2 separate regions of the Homo sapiens genome follow, and region 2 is linked to region 1. Evidence: fine-mapped expression QTL. Tissue or cell type: thyroid. Region 1 holds a variant in brackets; the other region holds the start of a gene. All regions are shown on one strand. Distances are from middle to middle.

Region 1 (2,683 bases):
GCAGCCTTCCACCACCCTACACTCTACAACCTCCCCGGCCATATTTTTCTCCACAGGACGTTGACCATGTGAGACAGGTTTTGGCGGCTCCCCCAGTAGAAGCCCACAAGGGTGGCTGACTCATGTATTGCTCTTCCTGCCTACATCCACTGAACCCACACACCTAGGGGTACCTGCCCCTTTCAGGGCTCCCCCTCACCGAGTACCCCTCTCCTCTCCAGAACAATCAAGTCTCAGGGGCCAAGCAAGCTGTGGAGGGCTGAATAATCCCCACCAAAGCTGTCCGTGTCCTAATCCTGGGGCATGGTGAATACATGATCTCACGTGGCAGAAGGGAATTAAGGTTGCTAATCAGATGACCATAAAATAGGGGGATATCCTGGCTTGTTTGGGTGGGCCAATGTAACCACAGGGGCCCTTCTGTGTGAGGGAGGGAGGCAGAATTGTCAGGGTCAGAGTGACGCAATGGAAGAAATCCTCCACCGGCCATAACAGGCTTTGAAGATGGAAGAGGTGGCGTCTAGAAGCTGGAAAAGGCAGGGAAAGAGATCCTCCTCTGGAGCCGCCAGAGGGAACACAGCCCTGCCAAGACCTTGATTTTAGCCAAGTGAGATCCAGTTTGGACTTCTGACCTCCGGATCAGAAGATGCTGCCTCTACTTCTGGGTGTATGTTCTGCAGCTGCCCCAGGGCTCACAGGAACTCAGGTACTTCCATGTTTGGAAGTCCTTAGACAAGGTGCCTACTAGGTACACTCTTTCCTGCTTAGCAGGTGTGAATCCTCCGAACTGTATGCCAAGGGAGCAGCTGTGCTGAGCTGACCTGCACATACCAATCCCACAGTGAGGCAGAAGAAAAGCCGAAGAGACGGGGGCTCCAGAGACTGCCCAGAGGCCTGGCTCAATGTGCTCCGTCCTCCCCACATCTGTCCTTGGTTTCCACTCAGAGACCACAGTTGGCTGTGGGAAAATGGCCAGACATCTCATTTTGGATCTCAAGTCCCCCATCTGTAGAATGGGGAGCTTGGAACAGATGGCATCAAAGTGCCCTTCAGAATCTTACTTCCTAAGCCGTGCACGGTGGCTCACGCCTGTAATCCCAGCACTTTGGGAGTCCAAGGCGTGGATAACCCGAGGTCAGGAGTTCGAGACCAGCCTGGCCAACATGGCGAAATCCTCTCTCTACTAAAAATACAAAAAATTAGCCGGGTGTGGTGGCTCGTGCCCGTAGTCCCAGCTATTCAGGAGGCTGAAACAGGAGGATCACTTGAGCCTGGGAGGTGGAGGCTGCAGCGAGCCAACATCACACCACTGCGCTCCAGCCTAGGCAATAGAGC[A/G]AGACTCTGTCTCAAAAAAAAAAAAAAAAAAAAAGAATCTTACTTCCTAACCCTTTGATGAAGAAGATACATGAGTGGCAAACAAACACATAAAATATGATGAACATCAACAGCCATTAGGGAAATGCAAATTAAAACCGCAATGAGGTACCCCTGCATACCAGCCAGAGCCAAGTCTCATTTTAAAATGCTGTATTGCAGTATATAAAAGCAGAGTCCACTAAATTGTGGTGGGTTACAGAGAGCCAAAGAAGAGAAAAGGTTTCCTCTTAGAGCCTGAAAATAGAACATTGAAACAACATTAACAAGAGTTTAAAGAAATAACTATGATGAAATTCCCACAGCACCTCATGCAGTCCCATGAAATAAATTCTTGTTCCACTGGATCTTGGATCCGCATTCTCTGCTTTCATGAAGTCGTCTGCTTGTGGATTAAAAAAGAGTCCTAGAACTTAGATCTTCGGTGGCCTCATGTAAACCCAGCAGCCAGCCTCTTCTAGAACCCCAGCCCAGGGACTGGAGCAGGAAAGGGACCTTCAAAGTGAAGACTGCCTTGTCCTGCACCTCCTTCTGGCTTAGATTGAAAAATGGGCTTCCTAATGGGTTAAATCCTTTAAAACAAGGAGTTGTGGGGGAAGGGTGTCGTGCACTCCTAGAGAAAGGTACACAGTTGCCCAGCTGGGAATGTGCTTGGCGCTGACCCTGTGGGCATCCAACTGGTCTTCCAGCTCAGGAAAAAGAATTTGAAAGAGGCTTAGCATGAAGGGGAATCAAACAGGAGGTTGTGATTTGGTCGAAGGTGCCTGGTTTAGTGCTGTAATTGTCTTATTATATATATTTCTTGGAGTAAACATTTTAAATAAACGACATCATTGTCAAAAAAAAAAAAAAAAGAGTCCTAGAAATCCTGATTCAGTCCACTGTTACAATCTGAGAGCTGCTTAAGTGATATCAGTTCAGATGCCTTGCTCACGAGTCTATAAAATGCAGACAGTTGGAAGTATCTGGTCCAGTCATTTACCACCAGGCTCTAAAACTGTTCTTTTTCGTTGATGACACCAACTGCAGCCTGTAGCTTAGAGGAGAACCTTCAAGCAAGCATCAGAGAAAAGCAAACACTATCTGTAGATGACAGAGACTTCATAGCTGTGGTTTTTTTTTTTTTTTTTGAGATGGAGTCTGTCTCTGTCGCCCAGGCTGGAGTGCAGTGGTGCGATCTCGGCTCACTGCAAGCTCCGCCTCCTGGGTTCACACCACTCTCTGCCCCAGCCTCCCGAGTAGCTGGGTTACAGGCGCCCGCCATCATGCCTGGCTAATCTTTTGTATTTTTAGTAGAGACAGGGTTTCA
Region 2 (2,683 bases), 64 kb after region 1:
TAATAACAAAACACTGAAAACAACCCACATGTCCATTGAAAATACATCGATAAATTTTCATACAGTTTTTACAATGGAACATTACCCAGAAGCTACACACAGAATGAATTTGGAAACTTAACATTGAATTATGCGAGTCCCAGATGACTTATACACACAATGGTGCCATTTATATGAAGCTCAAAAAAAAAATTTAAGTACATTGCTTACAGATACATGCATATGTAATTATTTTTTAAAATAACAGGGCTACAATTAACACAAAAGTCAATATAACTGTTACCTCTAGGGGTTGGAGGCTGGGAGTTGGGTTGAGGAGGAGGAACACATTGATAAATTCAGCAGTACTGGCAATCTTCTCTTTCTTAATTGGGTGGTGTGTTCATGGATGTTTACTACTATATATGTAACATATAAATATATATTTTAAATAAATATATAAACCAGCAAGGATGGGGTGAAATTGAGGACCCAAAATGTAATACAAAGAACAGCCAATGTGCTTAACTATACTACAGTGAACATAACCACACTTAAGTGGTAGGAAAGAAAAGGGGTAAGCAACTTTGGAAAACAGTATTTTGACTAAATACCATAAGAGTAAAGACAAAAAGACCTGTATCCAAGTACTGTACTTTAGGTAGTAAATTTGCTTTTCATGGGGGTATGAATTAGCGATTCTGAGACTACTAAATATATTCTAAAACTGAGTGAATTCGTAATTACGTTGTAGAAGTCATTCCCAGGTCACTGTCAACCCTGAGCCGAGAGAAGCAGGGCTGAGTTACCTTTTGGGACTGACACTGCTCCAGGAGACAATGTCCTCCAAAAGCCGGGCTGCTTCTGCTGCCGGGTGACTGGGAGGGGCTCTGCGCTCCCACTCGGCCCTAATTCATGACCCTATGTCAGGAGCCTGGGAGCACACGGTCCATACTCGGGATGCACATAGGTTAATGTTCCTGCCAGACCTCAGCATGTCAAAAGACTTGTGGTATCACCTCGGGCCGCTTCACGCCCGCAAATATTCCATCTTTTAGCTGCACCGACACATCTTCCCCCGTCGACCAAGTGCTAAATGCTCAGGGCCTCGTGGCTGGGACAGCAACGTGCGTTTCCCCTTCCAATGGGCGCAAGCTATTGAGCCACAAAGACCAAAGCTGGAGTCGAGGAGCGCGGAAGAGCACCCCGGGCCGCCGCCCTGCTCCCTCTCCCAGCCTGGGCCTCCTGGCAGCGTAGGCCACGGGAGACCCTGCAGCACCCAGGGTGGGAGTGCGTCTCAACCGGACCCAGAGCCTGGGGGACAGGGCACGGCACACAGCGCCCGGAGCCCTGCACTCACCTCCGTAGCGGACTGCTCCCCGGCGCTGCCGGAAGTGCGTCACCAGGCGGCCGGGCCTCTCTAGGAGCAAGGTCGCTGCGCCTCGGTGGTGGTCACGCCCGGCCAGCTGTGGCCGCATCCCTGTCGGCTAGCTCGGGTCTGGCCCACGGTGACTGTTACCCCTGGGGAATGGGGCAGGTAAGAATCAGAGCCAAGCGGGGACCCAGCCCGGGGAGGTGAAGCTGCAGGTGCAGCCACGTGTGGGAGTCTTGGAAATGGACCAGTGGATGGCGCGCTGTCACACCCAATGCCCCCTTTTTCTAACAAATAGTTTGTAATGTCCATCTTATTCTCCTGACCTGATATTCATATATAATGGCCTAGAAAATCATACATAACATACACACCTACATATTAAAAACTAATGTTATGCCTTAAGTGTAATGAAAGAGAAAAAAAAGAGGACCGTCATCTGTCGTTTAAAAACACATACTTCAATGTGTTTGGTCTTGGCTGCTGCAGGAGACCTAATAAGGTGGTCGCCTTTACACATAGACGTTGTCTGAGTGCCACAGCCACAAAGCTGTGACTTACATTGTTGCAAAAGTCACAAAATTATGATCCAAAATGGCAAACATGTTTTCGTGAAGTTCTGAATGAAACACAGGACAATCGTCTCTTGATTATACAATAATTACATTCCTGGAAGATCAGTGTATGTTAAAACTGTGCAAAAATACATGTTTATCCAGAAAACAGGTTTAGATTCAGATAATTTAGAAATAGAATTTTCACCTACCTGAATGTTCAGCAAGACATTTGAAAGTGTGAACATTTTTTCAGTGGGCAGGACTGTCCTGTACATTGCAGGATCCTGGCTCCTATCCACAACGCTAGTAGCAATGTTACCACTGACACCAAATATAACAAAATACCTACCATAAAATTCCAAAATGAGCCCTGGGGGAAGGGAGACAGTACTAAATGCCACTGGATTGGACGACCCTTAAAATCCCCACCCCCTCACACACCCCCTAACCCTGGTAATGTGGGCTTTTCTTCCTTCCAGCTCTGATCCATCCAACGCTGCTGCACTGGAGACTGGTATTTGGCTCCCACTTGCCTCTGTGGCTTCTTATCACTCCCATTCATTCCCTGACTCTACCTCAGCCCTACATGCTAAAAATGCTGTTCTCTAAATCTAGAATGCCCTTCCCTTCCCATTCCTACCCTCCATCTTGACTGTTACTGGAAGTGTGAGCTCAAATCCCATTTTGCATGGGAAGCAAGCCTTCCCTCATCACCCAGAATAAGGCAGGACACTCATTTATGTGCCATCACAGCACTGTGTACTTACTTAATGGT

What was found. PIP is the estimated chance that this variant, and not a neighbour inherited with it, causes the effect.
Region 2: it holds the start of ZNF23, and the variant in region 1 is fine-mapped to the expression of ZNF23 in thyroid (GTEx, PIP above 0.99).

What each region holds. Positions count from the first base shown.
Region 1 is chr16:71,396,851-71,399,533 of GRCh38, forward strand. No RefSeq gene overlaps it. Among named protein-coding and RNA genes, the nearest start is that of LINC02136, 28 kb to the right of the region's middle. The variant A/G (reference allele first, on the strand shown) is at 1,336.
Region 2 is chr16:71,460,871-71,463,553 of GRCh38, forward strand. It overlaps ZNF23 (zinc finger protein 23), which reads right to left and starts at 1,377. Exons shown (of 5, transcript NM_001381984.1): 1 at 1,340-1,377. It overlaps LOC124903709 (a long non-coding RNA gene), which reads left to right and starts at 1,442. Exons shown (of 2, transcript XR_007065105.1): 1 at 1,442-2,422. RefSeq lists enhancers at 976-1,065, 1,336-1,495.